Linked DNA regions of Homo sapiens. The protein of the gene in region 1 purifies or fractionates together with the protein of each later gene. This does not show direct contact. Each region holds a gene or a part of one and is shown on either strand. Other genes may lie near its edges. The genes, in order: SLCO6A1, DDX18, NAP1L4, UFD1, GTPBP4, CTSH and FAF2.

Region 1 (3,467 bases):
AAAAGAAAAATAGGCCAAGCATGGTGGTGGCTCCTGTCTGTAATCCCAGTACTTTGGGATTTGAAGGCAAGGAGATCGCCTGAGCTCACAAGTTTGAGAGAGCAACATGGCAAAACCCCGTCTCTACAAAAACTATAAAAATTAGACAGGTGTGGTGGCACATGCTGAAGTGGGAGGATCGCTTGAGCCGGGAAGGTCAAGGCTGCAGTAAGCCAAGATCGTGCCACTGCACTCCAGCCTGGGTGACAGAGTGAGACCCTGTCTCAAAAGAAAAAAAAAAAAGAATTAATTTAAAAAAATTGAAAAAGAATTAATTAAATATTGCATCCAATATTCAAGTACATTTGTATAATGCTTGTAATGTTGTAATGTATTAACTTTCTGCAGCTTGAAACATGAAAATGAAAAAACCTGCAAAATTAATGAACTTTTCTGTAATATTTGTTTTATTTGAAAAATGATGAATATTTCAAAAAGAGCAAAGCTGCATGAAATGACTTAGCTCTGGTTCCTATTGATAGCTAAGTTTTGAAAGTCAGAATTTATATTTCATGTTTCAGAATTAACACAGTCTATGAGGTAATAGCACACCTTGCACTTGGGAAGGGGGTAATATGTCTAAGAAATCTAAAACATATTATAAACATTTAAAAATCTCCTTTAAGTAACTTAATATAATTTTATGGCATTAATTGCATTCTAAAATTGGGAAATTTATACCTTTATAGGTGAAATATGCTTACCTTTCTTTGGTAAATAGCATTTTTGCCTACATTTTTGTTCTAAATACATGGACATATCTGATCATTGCATTTTTTAAATTTAGGTTTTCTTTGCAAACTATGCACTATCATCTTCACTACTATTGCATTTTTCATATACAAACGTCGTCTAAATGAGAACACTGACTTCCCAGATGTAACTGTGAAGAATCCAAAAGTTAAGAAAAAAGAAGAAACTGACTTGTAACTGGATCATCATTGTGTAAGAATTACACATTGTCAATCTATCAATGAAATATTAATATTAATAAAATTTAAAGTAATAATAATGTAATTACATGTTTAACAAATGTGCTTCATATAATTCTATATATTTTATTATATTTTGAGTGCAAATATAATAATATAGTCTGTGTTTAAAATTTTTAAAAATATAAAATACACATTTAATACTTTCAATGAAAGATAATACTTTGATTGAAAGAGATTGAGTGAAAATAGGAAAATACACCTAGGTTAATTTTAACTGACGTGATAGCCCATTAGTTGTTGGCCTTTGCTATTTGGAATTAATTAGGTTCCCTTTTTAGCTTATTCTTAGTACTTTTGATTTGGGCAGTAGATATTTATTTCTCCATTTTTCTAAATAAAAGTATATTTGCCACTTAAGTTCATATAATTAAAGTTGAAATTAAAGTTATATTTATTTTCCAAAAAGGACTATTTTAAACCTTTTAAAAATTAACATTTTATTTATCTATGATTTGACATACAGAGGTTTCCTCAGAAAATTTCTTTGGTTAATTGACCAGTTTATAATAAATATTTTGATGTTTCGTTAATCTTAGTAAACATAAAATTCAATATACTCATATACTTCTACCTGTTTTTTGTTACCTTTTTCCTTTTTTTTTTTACCTTCACTTGGATTTTATTGATAAAGACTAGCTGATAATCTGAGTTGAAACCCACTTTTCTGCTTGCTTTTACACTTCATTTTATAATTAATCGTAATTATTTAATGTGAAGAAATATTTAAATGTAGAAAATGTGTCAACTATTTATAGATTTTTTAAGCTAAAATGCATTTGTATAGAGATTTTGTTATAATTTTTTATACATTATTGTACATCAATCGAAATTAGATTTTCCAAATATTGTATAAAAATCAGATTGTTGTGGAACAAGGTTCTCTACAATGTTTCTTTGTTTTCTTGGGAGAAGTGATAATAGCTGACAAAATTTCTCCTCTGTTATTAACATTAGTCAATGACCCTATGTGGATGGGTAGACATTGCCCTATTCATGGTCGTGGCTAGCAGAAGAAAATGTGAAGCAGGGAATATTCATATCTTACTACACATTTTTATTTCCTGTTGTATATTTTATTTCAACATGCATTTTAAAAACCTATAAACTAGTCTTCATGTAAAACTCTACTTGATTGCTTGACTCTTCTCTGTTTGAACCAGCAGGATTGCAGATCATTTGAGGATCAGAGTGTGAAAACGAGTTTCTCTTTTACAGATTCTCCAAGATTTGTTTCTGTGCCCAACTTTCAGAAGAGGAAAATCACACATTATGTTTACATAAGTAGCAAAAATATATTTATGGTGATCTGCATTTTCATAATAAAGTGTCCTATTGTGAAACATTTCTGATAATGTTTTTAATGTATGTAGAATTTTTAGGATTTACTGGGAGAATTAAAGTTTAATAATTTTAGATTATTTACATTTCTTCTTAATATTCTGCTGTCTAGAAATATTAAAAATTATACAACTAGGAAATAAAGTAAAATAATAACATTCAAAGCCACTTTGAACATGCTTGTACAGTGTGTTTGTGGGGTGTTTGTGTGTGTGTGTGTGTGTGTATAGATACATATTACCTGTTTATGTTTCTCTTGCTTTCTTTTTTTTCAGAAAATAAATCAGTGAAGGTATAATAAAAATTATGGATTGGGAAGTACTGTTGAAACTTTAAATTTAAATATAGATTTTTGCTATTACAGAGTACGTGTTTCTGTATCACAAACTAATTCATGGAGGATTGATAAACAGGGAAGTAATGTAAATATAACTCAGAAGTTCTATTGGTTAATTCCAATTTAATACCTCTTTAAGTAATCAGGGGAAGTTTTTCACTATTATAGAGAAGATCTTAGCAATAAATTAAATCTTAAAAAATGCTAAAAATCCCACAGAAGTGCCTTCCTTTGGAGTCAATTTTGAATGAGTTAATGCCATCAAGGTTCATTATACTTTTGAGAGTATTAATGTACCTAAGGATACTGTAAGTGCAGGTGAAGAAGCTGCAAAGATACTTCTAAATATTGGAATTCTAACTTTGATGAAACTGGCCTCTTTTTGGAGTTCATATCCTCAAGGACCTACATTTTAAAGGAGGAAGGTGAGCCCCAGCATTTAATACTACAAAGGACTGACTATGGTGGTGGGTAAAAATGCTAGTGGAGGTTTAACTGTGCTAAGGTGTGTTAAGATTCTGATTGTTTTTGTTAGAGCTCTGGTTACAAAGTTGAATATTTTTGAATGGTTTAACCTTAACAATATTTTCTCCATAAGCCTACTCAGTCCTGGTGCTTAATTTTGCCTAAAGGGACACTGTAAATGAATGCATATGGAAATGCTCATATTTTAAAATTGATGATAATTTATTTGTGCTCTTCAAGTTGCACTTGTTCTGAGTTCTTAAAATGATTGCTATAAAAATCTCAGGTTCTTA
Region 2 (4,103 bases), on another chromosome or scaffold:
TATGTAATCTTGTCAATGAAAACACTCTGAAGGCAATAAAAGAAATGGGTTTTACAAACATGACTGAAATTCAGCATAAAAGTATCAGACCACTTCTGGAAGGCAGGTATGATTAACATTGAAGCTTAGATATTGGCATCTATTTTTAGAACTAGTAGATGATAAAGAACATACCAGTATATTCTGTTGATTTTGTACTATATGTTGGGTCATGTATCCAGCATACATTAAAGGCTTTAAGTTAATTACTGATGTTTGAAGGAAAGTGTTCGAAAGGTGTTCTGCTTCTGTTGTAGCACAGTTCTGACTTATGATTTCAGTATATAACCCAGGTGATCAATTTCAGCACTGTAGACGTTTCTTGTTCATGTTCTAGCCGTAGTGCCTAAGGTGTGTGTATGTAGTACGTCGTAAATGAGTAGGCTAAATGTCTTTCTCCTTTCCCTTTTTAATATTTAGGGATCTTCTAGCAGCTGCAAAAACAGGCAGTGGTAAAACCCTGGCTTTTCTCATCCCTGCAGTTGAACTCATTGTTAAGTTAAGGTTCATGCCCAGGAATGGTAAGCGTTCATCTGCTTGTTTCTGCCATTATTTCACTAGAGGTTTATTGTAGCTGTTACGGACTCAGTGGTGACAGCCACATTTAGACTTCTACCATATATCATTTTTAGGAACAGGAGTCCTTATTCTCTCACCTACTAGAGAACTAGCCATGCAAACCTTTGGTGTTCTTAAGGAGCTGATGACTCACCACGTGCATACCTATGGCTTGATAATGGGTGGCAGTAACAGATCTGCTGAAGCACAGAAACTTGGTAATGGGATCAACATCATTGTGGCCACACCAGGCCGTCTGCTGGACCATATGCAGGTAAGAGATGTAGTGCTTGTCTCATTGTCTTGTATGAAACATAAACTGACAACTAATGGTTGTTCTTTGTCCTTTGTTTTGTTAGAATACCCCAGGATTTATGTATAAAAACCTGCAGTGTCTGGTTATTGATGAAGCTGATCGTATCTTGGATGTGGGGTTTGAAGAGGAATTAAAGCAAATTATTAAACTTTTGCCAAGTAAGTAGGTAGCATCTGCATTTGGTTTGCAAAGTATCTGTTGGAGGTAGATAAGAGTTGTTCCTATAGAAAAACTGTACTAATGCCAGAACTTTACCATAGCCAAGTGAGGTAGTTGTGCCAATTAACCCGAAAGGTAATTTGGAATACAAGCATCAAATGTATTATAACTTGATATAATAGTTTTGCTGTTTTAGAAGTTATAAGGCACGTTAAGCAGTCTTCACATAGGTCCTGTCCTCCACCTCTTGCCCATTCTTACCTCATCTAACATCCCCCAAGAAGCCGCAGATTTTTTGCCTTACTTGTACATACCTTGGTTATAGTACTTGCAACATTATGAACTGGTTATAACTAAGACCATGGTTTCCTTCATTATATAATTTATTTTTAAAAGCTTTGTCAAAGTATAATTATATCTACCCATTTATAATGTACAATTTGATGTTCTTTGATTTGTTTACCACTGTGACATCATCGCTGCAATCAAGAAAATGAACATGTCCATCACAGTCAAAGGTTTCCTCCTGCCCCTTTTCAATTTCTCCCTCCCACCCCTCCTTACACGTATACCTTGTCCCCAGGTGAGTATTGATCTGTTTTCTGCTGCTAGATTAGGTTGCATTTTCTGGAAATAAAGTTGCTGTGAACAGTCATCTACAACTCTTTGTAGAGGCATATATCTCCTTTTCTCTTAAGTAAACCTAGGAGTGTCCTAGTTGGTATATGTTTAGTGTATGTTTAACTTTTTAAAAAACTGCCAGATGTTTTCCAAAGCGGCTGTACCATTTAACATTCCTATGAGCAGTGTATGAAAGTTCCAGTTCCTCCTATTAAGTCTTGACCATCAGGTAATGTTAGCCCCAAGTTTGTTCTCTTTTAAAGTTGTGGTATTCTTGTCCTTTGCTTTTCTATATAAATTTTAGAATTGGTTTGTCAGTTTCTCCCCCTTCCCTCCAAAAAAGTCTCAGATCTTGACTGAGATTTTATTGAATAGAGATTATTGGAGGAAGACAGTATTGAGTCATGTAACCCATAATAAGGTATATCTCCATGTATTCGATATTTTCTCTATCATATTTAGGGGGGTTCGGGATACAGGTTTATTCACATCTTTTGTCAGATTTATCTCTGAGTGTTTCATTAAAATTTCAAGTTCCAATTGCTCGTTGCTTTAATATATACATATATACACACACACATATACACACATATATATGCACACACAGTTGAATTTTATATTGATCTTGTATCTAGCAAGACAGTTAATCCTGTACCGAATGATTATTCAGTATGACTTTCCAGATGACTGTAGCCTTTTGGATTTTCTATATAGGCAATCATGTGCAGATAAAGACAGTTTCACCTCTTTATTTAATTTTTTTTTCCTGCCTGATTGCCCTGGCCAGAACCTCCAGTATGGTGCTGAATAGAAGTGGTGAGAGCAGACATCCTTATCTTGGTTCTGATCTTAGGGGAAAGCATTCAGTCTTTTACCATTAACTACATATGAAGTTAGCTGCAGGTTTTATATAGATGCCTTTTATCAGATTGAGGAAGATCCCTTCTGTTCCTAGTTTGCTGAGGATTTTTAATCAGAAATAGATGGTCAAATGTTTTTTTTCTGTCTGCTGAAATAATCATGTTTTTTCTTTAGTTAACATAGTGAATTGTATTGGTTGATTTTTCAAATGTTGAACCAACCTGCATTTCTAGAATAAACCTGATCCATTTCTAGAATAAACATGAGCCATTATCCTTTTTATATATTGCTGAATTCACTTTACTAAAATTCTATTTCAAATTTTGTATATGTGCTCACGAATTGTATTGGTCCATAGTTTTCTTGTCATGTCATGTCAGGTTTTTGTATAGTGTAATGACTGACTTCGAAGAATGAGTTGACATGTAAGCCCTCTTTTTAATTTATTGGAGAGTTTGTGAATAATTGATGTTTTTTTCTTAAATGTTCAGTAGAATTCACCAATGGAATCCATTTGGGCCTGGAATTTTCTTTACATGAAGGTTATAACTAAAATTTCTTTAGTAGATATAAGGCTATTTAAAGTTTTCCTATTTTCTTCAGTTGTTTGTCTTCAAAGGAGTTTGTCCATTTCATCTAAGTCCTCAAATTTATAGACCTAGTGTTTCATGATATACCCTTTTTACCTTTTGTAATATTTGTAGATTCTGTAGAAACATCATATCTCCCATTTCTGATATCTCTACCTAGAATATTTGTAGTTGTGAGGCAATTGTAAAGATTCCCTAAAAGATTGGGGTTATTTTTATATGTATCTGTTTCAGCACGTAGACAGACTATGCTCTTTTCTGCCACCCAAACTCGAAAAGTTGAAGACCTGGCAAGGATTTCTCTGAAAAAGGAGCCATTGTATGTTGGCGTTGATGATGATAAAGCGAATGCAACAGTGGATGGTCTTGAACAGGTACTTTTTATCAATAACTGAAAACTGTAGGGATCTTACTTGGTGTTTTTATGTAATTGTTGGAAGGATCATTCAGAAAGCAAATGGGTTAATGAACTTTTAAAATGCTGTAGGTGAGGCATGACAGTTTACACACTGTGTTTATCAGTGCTCTTGATGAAATTACACAAGTTAGGAAATGGAAAATGTCCACTTGGTTCATTTGTATCTGTCTGCTTAAACGCTTTCTAGGGATATGTTGTTTGTCCTTCTGAAAAGAGATTCCTTCTGCTCTTTACATTCCTTAAGAAGAACCGAAAGAAGAAGCTTATGGTCTTCTTTTCATCTTGTATGTCTGTGAAATACCACTATGAGTTGCTGAACTACATTGATTTGCCCGTCTTGGCCATTCATGTAAGTGATGATGATGAGCTCATTGAAAACAGGGTATGCTTATTAAATCCTATAGATTGTAGGATTGGAGGTATTGCCCTCTCCTGGAAACATTGTTCTGAGTAGTTTGATCACCACTAGATGATGGATCCTGTGTGGGGGAGCGCTGCTGGGTGTGGAGGGGTATGAGGACTTTCGAAGAGTGCAAGACAC
Region 3 (4,103 bases), on another chromosome or scaffold:
AGCTATGGAGTAGATGTTTTCAGTTCAAAATTAGGAATTTAAGGTTATATTTTGTTACAAAAATCTTTAAAAATTTCATAAGAAAACAGTTGTTTGGGGTACAAAGAAATTAATCCATAAATAGGATTGTTACAGTGACTAATATAAATAAAAGAACATTTGTGTAATCATGGGAATTATTTTATTTTATTTTTCCTCGACCCAATTAACTGGGTGAAAATTTGCTTGCCAGTTCAGATTTAGAATTGTAGACACAGTTAAAGTTTTTGACCTTGGGAGGGAACCTGAACTTTAGAAAACTTACAACATTCTTTTGCCTGGTATCCCTTTCATAATTTAACTTGATTGTCTTTTATTTATTTTTAGTTATTATTTATTAACACAAAATTATATTTATGATGTATAATGCGATGTTTTGAAGTACTATACATTGTGGAATGGCTAAGTCAAGTTAATTCACATTAGGTGGTATACTGATTCTGACAAGAACACTTAACATCTACTCTCAGCAATTTTTCAATTATGTGATACATTGTTGTTAACTATAGTCACCAGGTTGTATAGATCCCTTGATTGCCTTTTAAAAGTGAGAGAACCTTCTGGATGAGTCTTCGGGCTGTGGTTTTATAAGACTAGTATTAAACTGAACATAACATTTAAAACAAACAGATATTTATTTTCCTCAAACCTGTATATTTGATAGTTCCTTATAACTTTCTGTTTTAAGGGTGATAGGGATTGATAAACAAAAATAATTTGTGGTGCTGAAACTTGACTGAACTCTAGCTTGTTTATAATACCACCTCTCTACATTGTCTTTCCTTATTCAGGTTGAGCACTCCTGATCCCAAAATCAAAAATCCAAATGCTCCAAATTCTGAAACTCCGTTAGTGTTGACATTAATGTTACAAGTGGAAAATTTCACACCTGACTTCACGTGATGGATCACAGTTAAAACTTTGTTTCATGCACAAAATTATTTAAAATATTGTATAAAATTACCTTCAGTCTATGTGAATAAGATGTGTGGGAAACGTGAATGAATTTCATGTTTAGATTTGGGTCCCATCCCCAAGATACCTGATCATGTTTATACAAATATTCTAAAATCTGAAACACTTCTGGTCCCAAGCATTTCAGATAAGAGATACTCAACCTGTATAAAGGGTGCAGTGTTTAAAGTAACTTGATTTGTTGGTTTCATATCAAGGAATAGATGTAGTCTATATGCATGGCAGTTACAAAAGTGAAAAGAGACCTGGCCTGCTGTTATGTACTAGGAAATTTGTCTCCATTAACAGTTTCTCAGGTAGCCACTGTCTTCTAGTTTGTGGATGATGAAACTGAGGTCCAGAGGAAGGTTATGCAGAAGAGCATGAGTGGGAATGAGTATGGGGAAGTAGACAGGGCCTGAATTGGTAGGAATGTGTATTCTGCAGAAGGTGACGGGGGACCATTGAAGTGTGTTTGTTAGTTTTTTGTTTGTTTGTTTTTTGAGACAGAGTTTCGCTCTTGTTGCCCAGGCTGGAGTGCAATGGCGAGATCTCGGCTCACTGCAACTTCCGCCTCCTGGGTTCAAGAGATTCTCCTGCCTCAGCCTCCTGAGTAGCTGAGATTACAGGCATGCGCCACCATGCCCGGCTAATTTTGTATTCTTAGTAGAGACGGGTTTCTCCGTGTTGGTCAGGCTGGTCTCGAACTCCTGACCTCAGATGATCCGCTCGCCTCGGCCTCCCAAAGTACTGGGATTACAGGTGGGAGCCACCACACCTGGCCTTTGTTAAAGGGTTTTTAAATCTTCACTGACTAGGGCTGGGTTTGGGTTGCTGCTGTGGTCGTGGTGGTGAGCATAGCCAGCCATTGTAGGGTTTGTTGCCTTTTTTTTTTTTTTTTTTTTTTTGAGGCAGGGTCTTGCTCTGTTGTCCAGGCTGGAGTTCAGTGGCGCAGTGATAGCTCACTGCAGCCGCCAGGCCTCCAACTCCTGGGCTTGAGTGTTGCTTCTGTCTCAGCCACTCAAGTAGCTGGGACCAGAGGCATCAACCACTGTGTCCAGCCTCATTTTTTTTTTTTTTCTTTTTGTTTTGAGACAGTCTCACTCTGTCTCCCAGGCGGGAGTGCAGTGGTGTTATTTCAGCTTACTGCAACCTCTGCCTCCTGTGCTCAAGCGATTCTCCTGCCTCAGCCTCCTGAATTGGGACTACAGGTTCACACCACCATGCCTGGCTAATTTTGTTTTTTTTGTTGTTTTTGTAGAGACGAGGTTTCCCCATGTTGCCCAGGCTGGTCTGAAACTCCTGAGCTTCAGGTGATCTGTGATAGGGGTAGGATTTGAAACCAGGCTGTTCAGTGTGTGTCTGTCTTGTTCTAGGCATTGAGTTCTGGGTTGGTTGGTTCTTTAGTCAAAATTATTTTCTTTTTTATTGTGTAAATTCATTATTTTTTTTCTATCCTTGATTTAGCACTTTTTTTTTTTTCCAGAATACCGTGTTGGGTTTAACTTAACTGCCTTGTCATCTTGTTAACAAAAATTGTATTAAACAGCACATGCCGGGCTGGGCATGGTGCCTCTGTCCTATAATCCCAGCACTTTGAGAGGCTAAGGTGGGAGGATCACTTGAGGCTAGGAGTTTGAGACTGCAGTGAGCTATGATCCTGCCACTGCACTCTAGCCTGGGTAACAGAGTGAGACTGTGTGTCTCTTTAAAAAAGCACAGCCTTCACTTAAATGAAAATTGAGTGAATCATTTTATCAATGGACTCTGTTAAGTTGGAACAGGTACCATTCCATGGGAAGGTGAACCTCTTTGGCTCATGTCCTAACACAGGTGGTTTATGCTTTCAACAGATATTTATTATGCCAGGAACTGTTAGGGGCTCTGGGGCTGCATAGTGAACAGCATCAAAAGGGAGTATTGTCACACTCCATTTGTAGACAAAATGGATTTCTTGGAGATGCTGCTGAACAGTAGGATTTCAACCCTGACTAAGCTGTTGCTTGTCACTTGTTCCAATAGCAGCAACAGGTTTTTTGTTTTTTGTTTTTTTTTGAGATGGAGTCTTGCTGTGTTGCCCAGGCTGGAGTGCAGTGGTGCAATCTTTGCTCACTGCAAACTCCGCCTCCTGGGTTCAAGCAGTTCTCCTGCTTCAGCCTCCCAGTTGCTGGGATTACAGGCGAGTGCCACCATGCCCAGCTAATTTTTGTATTTTTAGTAGAGACGGGGTTTTACCATGTTGGCCAGGCTGGTCTTGAACTCCTCACGTCGTGATCTGCCCGCCTTGGCCTCCCAAAGTGCTGGGATTACAGGTGTTAGCCCCCAGGCCCAGCCTAGCAGCAACAGAATCTTTAATGAGCAAGTAGAAACAGCCAGAAGTGAAGTGGTGTTGGTACTAGGGAAAGGTTAGAAGGAGTCAGATTTGAAACACGAATGCATGTTTTACTAGCCGTGTGACTTTCAATTTGGCACCTCACCTTTCCAAGCCTCAGCTTCTTTTCGTGTAAACTGAGGATAGTCCCTCCCTAGTGGAGTTTCTCTTGGTATTAAATGTATGAAGTGCCTGACATGTAGGTCCCTTGCTAGTATAGGAGGTGCTGGAAATGAAGTATGTGTCTTTACGAGGTGTTACTGATAGGGTGATGACAACAAGAATCTGTCCATTAAACTGACAGTGTTAGATGTTTCCAGGTTAGTAGGCTTCTTTCAGCAATTAGTGTGTATGTGTGGGGTAAGGAAGGTGCTATGAGATACATTTCTTAGGCAATAGAGAGCTTCAATTAAGTAGCCAAATTACAGTTGATGTTATTGTGTAACTGTTTTGGCAGTATGTATCAGAATCCATTCATGCTCTTTGACCCAGAAATGCTACTGTAGCGGTCCTGCTATTGCCATATCAATTAAGGATAACTGGGAGTGGGAAGCCATATAAGCCAAGATGTTCATAGAGACATTATCAAAGGTATATAACAGAAAAAAACACCTCATTCTTTAACAGCTGGTAAGTGGTGTTTTAGCTCTTAGAATGTTGTCCTTAAACAATTGTTATGAAGTCTGACTGTCTCACACCTTGCATTTAGAATATGTGAGAAGGGAACTAACCTCAGGAA
Region 4 (4,103 bases), on another chromosome or scaffold:
TGTACAGTGGTATTAGTGACGTTGGTATGAGCATTCTTAGAATTTTCTCATTGGGTATAGCTAGTTATTTACTTAGAATAAATTTCGAAGGCCGAGTGCGGTGGCTTATGTCTGTAATCCCAGTTCTTTGTGTGGCCGAGGTGGGCGGATCACCTGAGGTCAGGAGTTCGAGACCAGCCTGGCCAACATGGTGAAACCCCATCTCTACAACAATACAAAAATTAGCCAGGTGTAGTGGCACATGCCTATAGTCCCAGCTACTAGGGAGGCTGAGGCAGGAGAAGTGCTTGAACCCTGGAGGCGGAGGTTGCAGTGAGCCAAGATCGCACCACTGCACTCCAGCCTGGGCGATAGAGCGAGATTCTGTCTAAAAATAAATAAATAAAATAAATAGTAAAGTTCCAGAAGTGAACTTTCCAGGTTAAAGGTTGTTAGTGTCTTTTGCAGTTAGCTGTATAACTACCTTGTCTAATTTGAACCATATCTGGGGAACAGCATCTCTTCAGCGATGGGCACAGGGCAGCCTGTCCCTTATGGCAGTGTTGTCACAGCAAGAAGTGCAGCTGTAGGTTGTGTCATGGGCATGAATGCTGTGTCATTCGCAGGAGCCAGTAGAGCCACAGTAACATGGACAGCGACAGCTCCAGTGCTGCCAGGAAACCATCCAACTGATTTCTGTGTTTGCCCCACAGATCTACGAACTGCGTGTGATGGAGACCAAACCCGACAAGGCAGTGTCCATCATTGAGTGTGACATGAACGTGAGTGGCTCTGTCCAGTTACAGTGAGCCTGGGCCCTGGGAGGATGGGCAGTTGGTGACCACTGCAGGCCAGGGTGTCAGGAGGGCATCAAACAGCCCCTGGGACTCTGGGTAAAGAGGAGGAAGATGCTGTCAGAACATCATGAGGAGACTGTGACCTTGTGATCTATCTCAGGGCCAGTTGGGGCAACAGAGTTTGCTGCCAGTGCTGCCATGGTTAGCTCTGACCCGTTGAGGAGTGAATATTCTTTTTTTTTTTGAGACTTAGTTTCACTCCTGTTGCCCAGGCTGGAGTGCAGTGGTGCGATCTTGGCTCACTACAACCTCCACCTCCCAGGTTCAAGCGATTCTCCTGCCTCAGCCTCCCGAGTAGCTGGGATTACAGGCATGTGCCACCAGGCCCGGCTAGTTTTGTATTTTGGTAGAGACAGGGTTTTACCATGTTGGCCAAGCTGGTCTCAAACTCCTGACCTCAGGTAATCCACCCGCCTCGGCCTCCCAAAGTGCTGAGATTACAGGTGTGGGCCACCGCGCCTGGCCGAGGAGTGAATATGCTTAAGAGCTAAGGAAGCGTACTGAACCTTCTGAGTAGGAATGAAGTGCTGATGCACACAGCATCCTGGTTGTATTACTAGGGAATACTGCTGAGCAAAAAAAGCCAATCCCAAAAAGTTACTTCGTTATATAACATCCTCAAAGTGACAGAACTTTCGAAATGGAAGACAGACCAGTGGTTGCCAGGGCTTAGGACTGGTGGAGGGGGCTGGGAGACAGCTGGGTATGGTTATAAAAAGACAACATGGGCAGTCCTAGTGGTGGTGAAACTGTTCTACATCTCAACTGTGGTGGATACATGCCCCACACAGTGATTACATTGTGTAGAACTAAAGATACCCATGAACAAAAACATGTAAAACTGGGGAAATCTGAATAAGAGCAGTGGGTTGTGCCAGTGTTGATATCCTGGCAGCAATACTTTACTGTAATTTTGTAAGATGCTACCGTTGGGAAAACTGGGCAAGTGTACAAGGCATCTTTTGTATTATTTCTTAAAACTGCATGTGAATCTACAGTTGTCTCAATTAAAAACAAAAAAGGAAGCCAAGGGTGGTCATGTCTCAATATTTTACTTTTAAAATCCTGGAAACACAGGTGGACTTTGATGCTCCCCTGGGCTACAAAGAACCCGAAAGACAAGTCCAGCATGAGGAGTCGACAGTAAGTGTTATCCTCAGTGTCCTTTGCTGTCCTGCTGCATGCTGCTTTTGAGTTCCTGGCAGTGGCTCGTGGGTGGCCTCTGCTAGTGTTGGTGTAGTCATATCCTCTGCGTCCCTTCCAGCCATGCTTCCGGGGGACATCCTAGCCGGGGGTGGGGGTGAGAGGGAAGCTGGGTGTCCCCGCTGAGGAGCTCACCTGTTTTTCTTTTTCCCTGTCAGGAAGGTGAAGCCGACCACAGTGGCTATGCTGGAGAGCTGGGCTTCCGCGTGAGTACCAGACCACTTGACTTATATTGCTGTGCCCTCTGCTCCTTGAAATTAGAGCACTCACTCAAGGTGTTCTCCATGATGCTCGATGGACATCAGCAGGGGTTAGGCCTCTGGGTACCTGTGCATATGCAAATCTGCCACTCGCTCAGTTACCAAACCCTTTTGTATCCACTCTCTCCTGGAATCTTCCCAACAGCCCCATAAGGCAGCCCAGATTTTTAAGAATTTCTAACCTACCGAAGAGTTTAAATAGTACAGTAGACATATACTGTTCCCTTAGGTTCACCAAAAGTTACCACATTTGCTTTCTCTCTCTTGTAAATCATGTTTCCTTTTTTCTTTGCCTGTACCATGTAGGTTGCAAACATGACCCTTAGCATAACTACTGGCAAGGCTCCATGGGAAACAGGTGGAGGTGGTTCATGTGTGGGCACTGAGGTGGCAGGAGGTGCCAGGAAGCAGCAGAGAGGGCAGAATGATGGGAAGCTGAGCTATGGGGCAGTCACAACAGTAGCCTTAGCCCACCCATAGAGCTTGAACTGGGTGGCCCTGCAGAGGCAGGGATCAGGTCTTTTAACCCAACACTGACTGCTGGCTGCCCTTGGCCAAGTGGCTGTCTTCAGCTCATGGCCACCCCCTGAGGAACTGGGCAGAGTTCTTAGCTGCCAGCACCCCAGCAGTTGAGGAGTCAGGGCTTCAGTCCTGAAGGGGTCTGCACAGCACCCCCAGCTCACATCCCTGCAGTGATCTCCAAGCAAAGGACATATCGTCCTCACACTTGGGCTTATTATATGACTCACCTACTTCCTGTCTAGGCTTTCTCTGGATCTGGCAATAGACTGGATGGAAAGAAGAAAGGGGTAGAGCCCAGCCCCTCCCCAATCAAGCCTGGAGATATTAAAAGGTAGGTCTGTCCTGGCTCTCCTCCAGGACAGGAGGAGGATCTGTGCCAGCCCGCTGGGGTCGGGCAGCCTCACCCCAGTTCTGGAGACAAAGCCTGGGTCAGTAGTCTCCCAAGGGACTAAAACCCTTAGCTGCTCTCCTTGGTGGGGTGGAGCACAACATGCCCCTCCTTCCACAGTGCCACCCCCAGTACCACTGTGGTCCAGCCTCTCTCCATACCTCTCCATACCCCCAATTCAGCCTCTTCTTGCCCCCACTGGCTTTCCTAAGATGCGAGTCTGATTAGATCTGTCTCTTACTCAAAACCTTTCTGGTCCCTATTTGGTGATCTGCCTATTTTCCTGTTTTGTGACTTGGAATTATTAATCAGGTCACATTATCTCAGTTCCCCTGAAAGTTCCCTGAGGAGCTACCTCAGATGTGCTTCTGTTGCTGGGTCCGGGGACCCACAGCAGACCCTTCCTCTGGTGGCCATGATGGCAGGGGCAGGGCTGAGGTGTGTCAGTTGTCTGTTGTGTGTGTGAAATCAGAATACTGGAGTGAGAGTCTAGCCACCTCAGGGGGTTCTGTGAAGCTCAGGACAGTGACAGTGAGGGCTTCCCAATCCTTCAGATGACCCCTCTCCATAGACAGGTACAGAGCCTAAAGCCCCTGGCCCTATACCCAATATTGATACCAAACCAAGAAGTCAGTTACTTTCTGCTTCCCTCCTGGGAGGATGCCAGGAAGCACCAAAGGGCCCAGGTGGGGTGCAGCAGCATCTTTTCTGCGTTCCTCTTGACTGTCAAAAATGAATTTTAGTCCTTTTTTCCTGGAAATAACATTTCTCTGTCTCTGTCTCTTCTTACAGAGGAATTCCCAATTATGAATTTAAACTTGGTAAGATAACTTTCATCAGAAATTCACGTCCCCTTGTCAAAAAGGTTGAAGAGGTGAGTGTATTTCCTTGTAT
Region 5 (4,103 bases), on another chromosome or scaffold:
AACAGCTTCAGAGTGGAGGGTTAGATATTAAGTTGTCATTCACTGAATGCTTATTGTCTGTCAGGTACTGTTCTGAGTCCTAGGAATCCAGAAGTGGTAAAGGTTCCTGCTCTCATTCTGGTGGAGAAAAGATAGTAAATAGCATGTCAGATGAATGCAGTGAAGCCATGGAAGGGAGTAGGGAGTATCTGTGCGGGGAGAGGGTGTCAGGCCTGTAGTCAAAGAAGCAGCAGGTGCAGGAGACCCAGGAGGTGGGGCAGGCTAGGGAGGTGAACACTGGGACATGGGATTGGAGGTGGTAGTCAAGGGTCGAGTTTATATGCACTGGTGAGATATCTCAGGAGATGCTGGCCTGGTGATTTAAAATGCATTAGTAAAATGTAGACGACATTTAAATCTATCTGAGATCACCTTGGAAGGGAATGTAGGAAGAAGGGTGCTGTGGGGAGCATGAATGTTTGGGGTAGAGCTGTGAGCACTAGCCAGCACAGGACTTAGAGGGGTCAGACTCTCCACCTAGAAGCTGTGAGGAAAATACCGCAGGCAGGATGCATGGCCAGCCCGCAGCGTTTCAAGAGGTCTGTGAGATAAAAACTGAGAATTGGTCATTGGGAGGTCCTTGGTGAGCTTGTAGGCTGTTTAGATGGAGTGGTGGACACAGAATTCTGGAGAGAGTGGGTTCAAGAGAGGGAGGAGAGGAGAGACACAGTGTGTCTTGGGAGCAAAGAGAGGGAATTGGAAGGATTTTGGGGCTATGGGAATTTTTGATTTTTTTTCCTAAAGATTGAGAAATAACAGCAAATTTTTAGGCTGATGGGAATAGTCAGGTGGAGGGAAGAATTTCTAGTGCTGAGTTCCTGAGCAACAGGAAGGGTACATGCAGGGTCGGGGGCTGGTCATTGCTGGGTCCCACAGCTCTACCACTGCACTGAGAGCGAGGTGGGTGGGAGCCGTGACTGTCGGCACCCGCATCCCTTCTGATGCCTGTTTTCTCAGAGGACTAAATAGACAGGGCCCCTGGCCAGGAGAGGGAACTGGGGAGGAGACACTGCAGGCGTGGAGGGAGAGGGAAAGAAATTGTTCTTCAAGTGGTAGGGATGAAAAACTGCTGGCCCCAAGTGACCGTGGTGTGCTTTTGTTTGTTACAGGATATTCATCCGTTCTATGCTGATTTGATGAATATTCTCTACGACAAGGATCATTACAAGTTGGCTCTGGGGCAAATAAATATTGCCAAAAATTTAGTGGACAAGTAAGGTACTTTTTTCTGTAGTGTCTTTTAAGTTATCGAAAGTGGAAAAAATAATATTTTTTATTTTTTACAGTGTTGCTAAAGATTATGTGCGACTGATGAAGTATGGCGACTCTCTCTACCGCTGCAAACAGCTGAAGCGTGCGGCCCTGGGACGGATGTGCACAGTGATCAAGAGGCAGAAGCAGAGTTTGGAGTATTTGGAGCAAGGTGCTTGTCACGCATCCGCGGGAACCGTGCTAGCATCCTGCTGAGAGGATGCGTCCTTGTTGAGGACTTGAGATGTCTGTTTTTCTTGTATTTTGGAGATGACAGGGTCAGTTATTCTTCCTAGCTTTACCTATGAGAAACAGTAATAGGCTGGTTTTTATTGAAAATAAATACTTACAAATCAATAGCACTGATAAGAAAATTTATATATTTCATATTTAATAGGTAAGGCATACACAAAAAAGTCACGAGAAAATACTGAAAAGTATAAAAACTAAGGTGGCTCATAGTTTATTATTGACTTTTTTATTTTTAAAAACACTTGTATTTAATAGGACTTTCTGAATTAATGTACTAGGATTCTGTTGAAACAATTACTTGCTTATTGTGTGTATTCTTACATGACAAATTATTTTGACTCATTCGGTTTTGTTTTCTCTCCTGCATCTTAGAAATAATTTTTAACAAAATTTGTGATACTTGGATGCCTTGCAGGTGCTTTGCTACAGATCTGTGTGGTCTTCATGATGGCCGGGGTGCCACCCTGGAGCCGTGTTTGTTACAGACGAGGTGGCAGAGTGGCAGTAACCCATGTTGTAGCCCAAACGGCATGGCCTGCAGGCTTCAAAGTGCACTGGTTCCCTAATGTCATCTTGCTAATGAGAATTGTCTGGACACTGCCAGACATGCTGTTGGCCCCACCTGTCACCTAATGAATTAAAACGTGGGCTTAGAAGGGCTGAGGAATATGATTCTTACCAGAGCCAAACTTGGGAGATAGCAATTGAATATACTATGTGTATACTATTACTTTCTGCAACTATTTTCTCCATCACTTTTGCATTACAAAAGTTGGAGTAAGATGAATATCACCATAGGCCTGGACTGTAACTAAGTTGAAAAGAAAATTTAAAGCAAATCTTAAACTTTGAATTTCTTAATTTTTCAATTTGAACTTTTCCTAGTGCGTCAGCATTTATCCCGTTTGCCAACCATTGATCCGAATACCAGGACCCTGCTTTTGTGTGGGTACCCAAATGTTGGGAAGTCCAGCTTCATCAACAAGGTTGGTCTGGTTTTTATCGTAAAGCAAATCATCTGACTATTTTACGTCAGTGTTACTGTATTCTGGCGGCGTGGGATTCAGGATGGCCTTGTAGGTCAGTGTTAACTGTATTCTGACTGCGTGGGATTCAGGACGGCCTTGGTAATAATTTCGGCCTCCGAGTTGGTCCTTGAGTAAAACACTGCCCTGGTCTGCAGGAGTTCCCGGTGCCTGAGCACGCCGAGCTCCTCTTGGTGAGGATTTACTTTGTCTGTATCTACATTTATATTACTATTACAGAAGCCATTACTTTTTGTTCTTGTGTGTGTCCTATAATTTCTAAGGAATTTGAGACATGTAAGTGCATTTTTGTTGACAACTGGGGAGGTTTTCTTGGGTGTTGTTGGCCTGTCCTGGAGTGGCTATGCCAGCGGGGCTCCGGTGGCAGGTGACACTCACCCAGCTGGGGTCTTCCCGTCTGCAGCTGCATCTGAGTGATCTGTTACCTTGGTTGCTGTGTCAGCTTTCACATGAAATCGTATGTGGTCTAGTAGAGGGACGGTGCCGAGTCGCTCTTTCCCTGGGTGAGCTCACTGACTAGGATAAGTGTAACATTTAAGGGACTCGGTCATTTGTTGCTTCAGGAAAGTTTGGCTGAGTTTCAGGGACTCAGGAAGAGGCAAAGCAACATTTAAAATGTGAATTTACAACCAGCAACAGCTCATGTGCCAAGAAAATGGTCAAATTTTATGGCTTACTCAGTGCCAAGATCACTTTATTTTTAATTAAAAAAATTTTTTTCTTTCTTTTTGTTGAAACTTTTTCTTTTTGAGACAGGGTCTCGCTCTGTTGCCCAGGCTGAAGTGCAGTGGTGCAGACATGGCTCGCTGCAGCCTCAACCTTCCGGGCCCAAACAGTCCTCCCACCTCAGCCACCCAAGTAGCTGGGACCACAGGTGCACGCCACCGCACCTGTTTAATTTTTTTATTTTTTGTGGAGATGGAGTCTCACTGTGTTCCCCAGGCTGATCTCAAACTCCCGAGCTCAAGCCATCCTCCTGCCTCAGCCTCCTGAAGTGCTGGGATTACAGGCATGAATCACTCCACCCTACCTTAAGATCACTTTTGCTTTGAAATAGATTTGTGAGTTTTATTTTGTCTACAGGTTGCTGTGACATGGTGACCAGCAAAGCTCTGCAGGGTCCTTGCTGATTTTTCAAATGCTTGTCAGCTCTGAACCTGCCCTGAGCTCTGAGCCAGTGCTCTGTGGCCGATTTGGTGGCCACTGCACTGGGTGGCTTTTTAAATTGCAGTTTAATTCAGCAAAATGAAAATTTCAACTCCTCAGTCACATGAGCCACATACTGAAAGTTCATTAGCAGTGCATGACTGGTGGCCCGGTTTGGACAGTGCAGACAGAACATGCCTGTCATCATAAAGAGCTCTGCGGGCATTGCAGGCGGTGGGGCAGGACTTGGGAGGGTGAGGGGAGGTGGTGGCTGTCCTCCAAATGCCAGCCCTCACGCTGTCCTAGTACCCCAGTCCTTGGCCTGGTGGTGCAAAGGGAGAGGTACCAGGCTCCTATTCGATGCAGTTT
Region 6 (4,103 bases), on another chromosome or scaffold:
GAGGCTGAGACACAAGAATGGCTTGAACCTAGGAGGTGGAAGTAGCACTAAGCCAAGATCGTGCCACTGCACTCCAACCTTGGTGACAGAGCAAAGCTCTGTCTCAGAAAAAAAAAAAAATACCCATGTTTAAAGATTTGAAGACGTAAAATAGGGAGAAGAGTAGCTGCCCTCACACACTAGGATCCTGTGCTGGAGGAGTCACCCCAGGCTTCTTCAGAAAAACCAAGCTTTAGCCTCTTTACTATGGGGTTTCTCTCACCCACACCTTTTCGCCTGCCTGGTTTGCAGCCTCATTTCCCTCCCTTCATCAGTTGCTGCCCGTTAACGTCACTCACTAATGTCACTCACGTCTGTGCTCTCCTCTCCCTCCCTGAGGCTCTGCCCTGGTCACCATTGTCCTTGGACCCCCTAACCCCCCACACACTGTTCCAGCTTCCACTGGGAGCTGTCTGCCTTCTGAAACACTCCTCTTGCCAACGCCAACCTTTGAACACACCAGTGTCCCTGCTTTCCCAGGGTCCTACCCTGAGGGGGACCCTCATGATCTGGTCCTCCCTCTTTTTCCACACTCATCTGCCATCAAACCCGTCCCCGCCGTTCCACCCTGCAGCCCCCACCCCAGCCACGCAGAAGGGTTCGCAGTTCCATGGGCGTTCCCCGCCTCCACAGGGAGCCTTCCCTGACCCACCCTGCCCACCCTCCCCCCCCCCCCCGCTGGGTTGGATCCCCCCCACCTCCTGGGGGCTCTGTCGCCCTCCCACTGTCAGAGCCCTCAGGCCACTGTAGAGAAGCAGCCTCTTTGCCAACCTGCTCCCTGCCAAACAGGGCTTCCAAGGGACAGTTATGCATGCTGCCTGGATCCCGGCACCTGGCCCTGGCGCGAGCCTATGGCCCACTTACACATCAGCTGAATTCACACCTGACCACTGCAGTTTGTTCTCTTGAATTTCTTGGAATTTCCTTATGGAGGCTAGTTCACTTTTGTAAACAGAAAAAGTTGTATTTTTGCCATAGGTATAAAGTAATATTTAATAAATGCAGTGGCAACAAAGCAAAGCTGTGTTAAAGTCTGCCAGACACTGTTGCCTACAGAAGGTGCAGCAGGAAGGTGGCTCTCTCCTTGCCAGGAAAGAGGGAGTAGAAAGTGTCAGGGGTGAGACACGGGCCAGCACCATATGGAGATTCTCCTGACAGAAGCAGAAGAACCAAAAGAACTGAAAGGGCCGGGTGCGGTGGCTCACACCTGCAATCCCAGCACTTTGGGAGGCCGAGGTGGGTGGATCACCTGAGGTCAGGAGCTCGAGACCAACCTAGCCAACATGATGAAACCCTGTCTCTACCCAAAATACAAAAATTAGCTGGGTGTGGTGGTGCACGCCTGTAATCAGGCTACTCGGGAGTCTGAGGCAGGAGAATCGTTTGAACCCTGGAGGTGAAGGTTGCAGTGAGCAGAGATTGCACCATTGCACTCCAGCCTGGGCAACAGAGTGAGACTCCGTCTCAAAAGAAAAAAAGAACTGAAAGGAGTTCTCTCACGGAGACTAAATGTGATTACATCACCACCTTACATGCCTCCCTGGTCCGCTGTGGGGAACATTGCTCTAAAGCGCTCAAAGAGGCGTTGTTGGATGGGACTGTCATTGCTTTTATCCTTCCCATATGATCACCTCTTTTTGAATTTTGTTTTCCAGTACTTCCTGCCATAAAACTCCAGATAAAGTAAACCATGCAGTACTGGCTGTTGGGTATGGAGAAAAAAATGGGATCCCTTACTGGATCGTGAAAAACTCTTGGGGTCCCCAGTGGGGAATGAACGGGTAAGCAGCTCCCAGGTCCCACTTCTGGGAGGGGGATGTTGCTCAGGCCTGGAGGCCCTGGGGGCATCACTTCCACCTCAGAGTTACGGCTTCCACAGACGAGCTGGTCAGCCAAGCCCTAGGCCAGGCCAGGGGGAAAGGGAGCATGAGAATGTAGCCTCCACATTTCCAAGCCCCCATTTGCAGCCCTCACAGGGCCCCAGGTCTTTAGGACGCTGCAGGGAGAGCAGGAGGCCAGCTGGCTCAGAAGGACTGCTAGGAAAACAGCTCAGAACTTGGAACTCTGCTGGCACGAAATCAGTGTCTGGGAGGGTCCGTCTTTGAGAAATCAAAGCAACAAATGTACCCCTGATCACTGACAGCCCCTCCTTCCGGGAGAAAAGGCTGGCATGGGGCGGCCTGGGTGTATATGCTGCTGTGCCTTTGTCCTGTCCTCCCAGATTCCATGTCCTTGTCTGAAAAGGAGAGCTTTCCTGTTCCCTCGGGCTCCTGGTGATAAAATAGCTGTGTGAGGGCCCGGCCAGGGCTAAGAGGGGGCCCTCGGTAAATTTTCGGGAGAAGTGGGATATGGATCATTCATTTGGCAGCTAAGGAGAGGGAAGAATGAATTCTTCACAAAGTCAGGTCCGTGATTTGCCGGTGATCAAATAAGCCGAATGCTACTGTTTTATGAATAAATTTAGAGGGTCTCACCCCTGAAGTCAGCTCTTGGTGAGCAGCAAAACATTCTAGAAAGGCCTGTGGTGGGGAGACCGCCGGCCGGGCCTCAGCTCCTCTTTCTGCCCAGGTACTTCCTCATCGAGCGCGGAAAGAACATGTGTGGCCTGGCTGCCTGCGCCTCCTACCCCATCCCTCTGGTGTGAGCCGTGGCAGCCGCAGCGCAGACTGGCGGAGAAGGAGAGGAACGGGCAGCCTGGGCCTGGGTGGAAATCCTGCCCTGGAGGAAGTTGTGGGGAGATCCACTGGGACCCCCAACATTCTGCCCTCACCTCTGTGCCCAGCCTGGAAACCTACAGACAAGGAGGAGTTCCACCATGAGCTCACCCGTGTCTATGACGCAAAGATCACCAGCCATGTGCCTTAGTGTCCTTCTTAACAGACTCAAACCACATGGACCACGAATATTCTTTCTGTCCAGAAGGGCTACTTTCCACATATAGAGCTCCAGGGACTGTCTTTTCTGTATTCGCTGTTCAATAAACATTGAGTGAGCACCTCCCCAGATGGAGCATGCTGGTCCTGGGCCATGACTCAAACCAGGTCTGTCCTCGCCACTCAGTCTCCCAGGAGGGAGGCATCAGGGGGTGTCCAGGCTCTGGCTGGGAGGATGGTGGGGGTGCTGGCGGTATTATCCACCAGATGGGGTATCCAGGATGAAGAGCAGGCTTAATTTGAGATCTTGACTATTTGTCCCAAACCTGAGTGGAGAGGTGGGGAGGAAGGAGAAAAACGGGCCAAGCTGCGGCAGAGGCAGGATTCAAACCCACAATGTCAGCCCAGAAGCCTGTACTTCTCTGTGTGGCCTCCCCAGTCTCAGCTGCCTACTCCTACTCAGACTCTGCCCCCCACCTCCACATGAGACTGCCCACCCCTTCCTCACCAACCCCTTATTTATTTCAAACGTGCCCAGATGCTCCTGTCGTTTCCACACCATCCCTTCCCTTATCTTGCCTTTTGAGAAATCTTGATCTCTGTTTAGAGGGCGGCCATGAAGTTGCTGCTGCTTCCTGAAGCCTCCGGGCTCTGGGATGTCTGTAGAACAAGCTGGAGTCCACCAGCTCTTTGTCCTATGGCTCACAGACTTTCTTAATGATAAAAGCTGTCATCTTATTTGGGCTTCCTGAAAAGCTAAAGGCTTGAGAATATTTGAAAAATATATATGTTCATGATAAGGCTTATTTAGATAATGCAAATATAGTTTAATTTATTAGAAAATTCTAGTAACATAAGACCACAACTGTATAAGACAAAAAACAATCACCTTGCTAGGCATGGTGGCTCACGCCTATAATCCCAGCACTTTGGGAGGCCGAGGCAGGTGGATCACCTGAGGTCAGGAGTTTGAGACTAGCCTGGCCAACATGGTGAAACCCCGTCTCTAATAAAAATACAAAAAAAAAAATTTAGCCAGGAGTGGTAGTGCACACCTGTAGTCCCAGCTACTCGGGAGGGTGAGGCAAGAGAATCGCTTAAGCCTGGGAGATGGAGGTTGCAGTGAGCTGAGATCATGCCACTGCACTCCAGCCTCAAAAAAAAAATAATAATAATAATAGACTTCATTGG
Region 7 (4,103 bases), about 74 Mb from region 1:
ACCTCAGCCTCCCAAAGTGCTGGGATTACAGGCGTGAGCCACAGAGCCCGGCCAGTTGAGCCCCACTCATTTTCTGGCCTTGGACCCTCTGTAGCTTCCAATGATGAGCTCTTTTAATGGTACATGAAGGAAGCTAGAAGAAAGGTGAAGGTATGAAGCAAGTGGGTATATACATAAAAGGGTTCCAGTGTTTGCAACCTAGGGGCTGCCAGAGCAAAGTGAAAAGGTACCGAAGCTGCCAGGCATGGTGGCTCATGCCAGCAATCCCAGCACTTCGGGAGGCCAAGGCAGGTGGATCACTTGAGGCCGGGAGCTCAAGATCAGCCTGGCCAACAAAATGAGACTCCATCTCTACTGTCTCTACTAAAAATACAAAAATTAGCCAGGCGTGGTGGCGCATGCTTGTAATCCCAGCTATCTGGGAGGCTGAGGTATGAGAATCGCTTGAACCCAGGAGGTGAAGGTTGCAGTGAGTCGAGATGGTGGCACTGCACTCTAGCCTGGGTGACAGCGACAGAGCAAGACTCTGTTTCAAAAAAAGAAAGAAAAAGAAAGAAAAGGTGTAACAGGAGTGTCTAGGGAGGTCCAACTATTGTGGGAGGAATCAAGGGCAAACTGGGTAATCTCAGAGCAAGAGAATTTGTTGGGATTGTGAGTAGTCAGGTGGAGGAGAAGTAGTTGAGGAAGAAAGTTCTAAGGAGTGTGAAGCTAGGAGATGATAGTGGTTAGAAAGGAAAGGGTGTGGACATCAACTAGGAAGTGTAGAGGTGACAAATATGGTGGGGGGGGGAGGGGGAGACAAATAAATATAGTCAGACTGGTTTTTGCAAACAAAAGGTAAGACTAATTTAAAAACAATTCCATTTCACAATGCCTGCCAATGCTTCAACAATTTAAAATACTTGTATGTTGTATTAAAAGACAGTTCGGGAAGTGTATTCCATCTCATGACAAATTGGTAAGTCAACATTGATAGAGCATAAAGCTTATTTTGGCCTAAATTTCAGCTCCAAAGTCTTACTATTCTACTAATACATAAATCCAAAGGTACATACCTAAATATATCAAGTATCGTGTAATAGGTAAACCGGAATGGAAGCATTATCAAGTAATAACCCCATCCAAGCAGCCCCTGAAAGTCCAAAAACAAAGTTAGAGACAATTCTCTCAATCCCTAATATTTTATCAAATGGCTAGGTCAGATTTTCTCACTCTTTTTGGTCCTTCCATGTGATTTGTTCCTCTAAAGTACAGTTCCTTCTTCCTGGCCACCTCATCCTTCTAAGTGCCACCATCTTTGGTCTTATTTCATCTTACTATCATTTTTTTTTGCAGAATTTTTGTATTAAATCTGCTTTAAGGTCCAGAGCTGTATCTCCTGCCTGTAATCCCAGCACTTTGGGAGGCTGAGTGGGGCAGATCACCTGAGGTCAGGAGTTTGAGACCAGCCTGGCCAACACGGTGAAATCCCATCTCTACTAAAAATACAAAAATTAGCCAGGCATGGTGGCATGCACCTGTAGTCCCAGCTACTCAGGGAGGCTGAGGCAGGAAAATTGCTTAAACCCAGGAGGCGGAGGTTGCAGTGAGCTGAGATCGCGCCACTGAACTCCAGCCTGGGGGCAGAGCAAGATTCTGTCTCAAAAAAACAAACAAACAAATAAAAACCAAAACTGCCTTAATACTTATTTTTGGCAGCTACTTATAGACTTGTCAAATTCAATTGCAAATTAATGTTCCCCAAATGATACACACTCATTCTTTCCTTTTTAGATTTACACATCAAAATATGGTATACAGAAATAAGCCAGGCTTGGTGGCTCACGCCTGTAATCCCAACACTTTGGGAGGCTGAGGCGGATGGATCACCTGGGGTCAGGAGTTCGAGACCAGCCTGGTCAACATGGTAAAACCCTGTCTCTACTAAAAATACAAAAATTAGCTGGGTGTGGTGGCTCACACTTGTACTCCCAGCAATTTGGGAAGCCAAGGCAGGCAGATCACTTGAGGTCAGGAGTTTGAGACCAGCCTGGCCAACATGGTGAAACCCTGTCTCTACTAAAAATACAAAAATTAGCCAGACGCGGTGGTGGGCGCCTGTAATCCCAGCTACTCAGGAGGCTGAGGCAGGAGAATCGCTTGAACCTGGGAAGCTGAGGTTGCAGTGAGCTGAGATCACACCACTGCACTCCAGCCTGGGCAACAGAGGGAGATTCTGTCCCAAAACAAAACAAACAAACATAAAAACCTAAAATAATGTATATAGAAATAGCAAGAAAGATAATCACTATTACTAACCTTGGACATTGGTATATAAACATTAAATAATTATATTAACCACAATGACAAATCCCCATATAGCTGCTTATCTTAGTAATAATGCTAATTATTATTGCTGTTATTAATTATTAAAACTAGCATACATCCAGGGCTCTATAGTTTATAAAGCATTTCATAGTTGTCACATTGTGTTAACCTGAGACACTTTCTGTGTCTGTGGCCAGGAAGCTCTGGAGCCCCATGGCTGACATGGGAATCTGCTACTGTACTTCAGAAAACCACAGAGCACTACTTAGAAACATGTTTTAAAACATCAAGTAGGCCAGGCACAGTGCCTCAAGCCTGTAATTCCAGCACTTTGGGAGGCTGAGGTGGGCAGATAACTTGAGCTCAGGAGTTCAAGACCAGCCTGGGCAACATAGCAAGACCCCATCTCTACAAAAAATACAAAAATTAACCAGGATGGTGGCGCACACCTGTAGTCCCAGCTACTTAGGAGGCTGAGGTGGAGGACTGCTTGAGCCCGGGAGGTCTAGGCTGCAGCGAGCCAAGATCATGCCACTGCACTCCAGGCTGGGCGACAGAGTGAGACCCTGTCTCAAACAGAACAAAACACAACAAAAATCAAGTACTCCACAAAAAGGCTTGATGATGGAGTAAATTCTAACTGCTGCAATGTTAAAGGGAGTGTTTTCTTAGGATTCTAAATGCAAGTATAAAAGTATAAGAGGTGAGTATAACCCCAGGGGTAAGAAAAAGAAAGTCCAAGCAGTTCTTTAGAATTCATTATCAGTGTACACATCTGACTTCCTTCAATAGACTGTGAGAAATTGAATTTGAAATGGGAAGACTGGCTCTTTATTCATGTCTGGATCCCTAGTAGCAAGATACCAGGTTATTGGAGTACTCTTAAATGTCTGTCAAATTTAAGTGAACCACCTCCTTGCTACTAGCCCTTCAAGGCTAATTTCAAAGACGTGGCCAAAGCTCCTACAAAGATTCCATATACTTCCTCAAAACTGGTTTAAGATTAAGTAAACTGAAGCAACAAAGAACTTGAGTAAACAAATTGTAACTTAAGAGGCAGAAAACACTCTCCAAATAACTGGCAAAGAAAAGAAAAAAAAAATGAGTAGTTTCTGTAACAATTCCTTGAGGAATCAAGGCAAAATAATACACCCAACGGGCCAAGTCTAACTAACAGGTTTACATTCTAAATATTTGTTTTGCTCCTGTCACAGGGAGATCAATATAACCAAGTGGATATACTTATAAATAAAAAAGGGGGAAATCCCAGCTATGAAATAACTTGCCCTTGGTTGAGGTCTTGAGACAACATAGCTGTAGATCCTGTGGTCAGCTGTATTAACCTGCAGGGGTCGTGATGGAGGTGGGTTGAAAACACTAGGTACGCCCTCTTGCTCATTCAATCTGTCCTGTACAGCAGCCTGAGAAGGAAAACGGAGTGGCAAGAGTTTCAGCGATGCTCAAATCAACCAACAACAAGAGGTGAGGCAACTATTGCGTGGTATTCCAAAACAGGATGGTCATGAATACACCAAAAGGTCACTGAGGAGTGCACCTTCATGGGCCTGTTAACCGGCTGTACTTGGAGGCAACTGGAGTTGTCACTCCAGAATGCATCCATGGTAGAGGAGACGAGGAAACTTGTCTGGAAGCTACATTTATGCAGCAAGCGTACTGCCTGGATTCAGATGGCATGTATTATTTAGGGTGGCTGGGATATAAAGTGCTTCACTGTACAATCCCAAGAAAAGCCATCCTCAGAGAATACAATGTAGGCAGTACCCCTGGAGTTATGC

Evidence for each region.
Region 2: the proteins of SLCO6A1 (region 1) and DDX18 purify together in Homo sapiens (affinity purification with mass spectrometry; one large-scale study listed by BioGRID and IntAct). This does not show direct contact.
Region 3: the proteins of SLCO6A1 (region 1) and NAP1L4 purify together in Homo sapiens (affinity purification with mass spectrometry; one large-scale study listed by BioGRID and IntAct). This does not show direct contact.
Region 4: the proteins of SLCO6A1 (region 1) and UFD1 purify together in Homo sapiens (affinity purification with mass spectrometry; one large-scale study listed by BioGRID and IntAct). This does not show direct contact.
Region 5: the proteins of SLCO6A1 (region 1) and GTPBP4 purify together in Homo sapiens (affinity purification with mass spectrometry; one large-scale study listed by BioGRID and IntAct). This does not show direct contact.
Region 6: the proteins of SLCO6A1 (region 1) and CTSH purify together in Homo sapiens (affinity purification with mass spectrometry; 2 studies listed by BioGRID and IntAct, with this or other methods). This does not show direct contact.
Region 7: the proteins of SLCO6A1 (region 1) and FAF2 purify together in Homo sapiens (affinity purification with mass spectrometry; one large-scale study listed by BioGRID and IntAct). This does not show direct contact.

What each region holds. Positions count from the first base shown.
Region 1 is NC_000005.10:102,370,854-102,374,320, reverse strand, and holds the end of SLCO6A1 (solute carrier organic anion transporter family member 6A1), read left to right. Parts: intron 1-826; coding exon 827-969; 3' UTR 970-984; intron 985-2,194; exon of another isoform or gene 2,195-2,197; 3' UTR 2,198-2,547; downstream 2,548-3,467.
Region 2 is NC_000002.12:117,821,191-117,825,293, forward strand, and holds part of DDX18 (ATP-dependent RNA helicase DDX18), read left to right. Parts: coding exon 1-106; intron 107-459; coding exon 460-560; intron 561-671; coding exon 672-871; intron 872-956; coding exon 957-1,071; intron 1,072-3,378; coding exon 3,379-3,518; intron 3,519-3,749; coding exon 3,750-3,911; intron 3,912-4,103. UniProt on the Homo sapiens protein: ATP-dependent RNA helicase that plays a role in the regulation of R-loop homeostasis in both endogenous R-loop-prone regions and at sites of DNA damage.
Region 3 is NC_000011.10:2,981,965-2,986,067, reverse strand, and holds part of NAP1L4 (nucleosome assembly protein 1-like 4), read left to right. Parts: intron 1-4,103. UniProt on the Homo sapiens protein: Acts as a histone chaperone in nucleosome assembly.
Region 4 is NC_000022.11:19,454,729-19,458,831, reverse strand, and holds part of UFD1 (ubiquitin recognition factor in ER-associated degradation protein 1), read left to right. Parts: intron 1-692; coding exon 693-761; intron 762-1,913; coding exon 1,914-1,979; intron 1,980-2,197; coding exon 2,198-2,245; intron 2,246-3,063; coding exon 3,064-3,152; intron 3,153-4,001; coding exon 4,002-4,083; intron 4,084-4,103. UniProt on the Homo sapiens protein: Essential component of the ubiquitin-dependent proteolytic pathway which degrades ubiquitin fusion proteins.
Region 5 is NC_000010.11:994,781-998,883, forward strand, and holds part of GTPBP4 (GTP-binding protein 4), read left to right. Parts: intron 1-1,148; coding exon 1,149-1,252; intron 1,253-1,325; coding exon 1,326-1,462; intron 1,463-2,427; coding exon 2,428-2,528; intron 2,529-4,103. UniProt on the Homo sapiens protein: Involved in the biogenesis of the 60S ribosomal subunit. Acts as a TP53 repressor, preventing TP53 stabilization and cell cycle arrest.
Region 6 is NC_000015.10:78,920,710-78,924,812, reverse strand, and holds the end of CTSH (pro-cathepsin H isoform a preproprotein), read left to right. Parts: intron 1-1,694; coding exon 1,695-1,820; intron 1,821-2,607; coding exon 2,608-2,683; 3' UTR 2,684-3,755; downstream 3,756-4,103. UniProt on the Homo sapiens protein: Important for the overall degradation of proteins in lysosomes.
Region 7 is NC_000005.10:176,485,980-176,490,082, reverse strand, and holds part of FAF2 (FAS-associated factor 2), read right to left. Parts: intron 3,729-4,103; coding exon 3,594-3,728; intron 1,133-3,593; coding exon 1,056-1,132; intron 1-1,055. UniProt on the Homo sapiens protein: Plays an important role in endoplasmic reticulum-associated degradation (ERAD) that mediates ubiquitin-dependent degradation of misfolded endoplasmic reticulum proteins.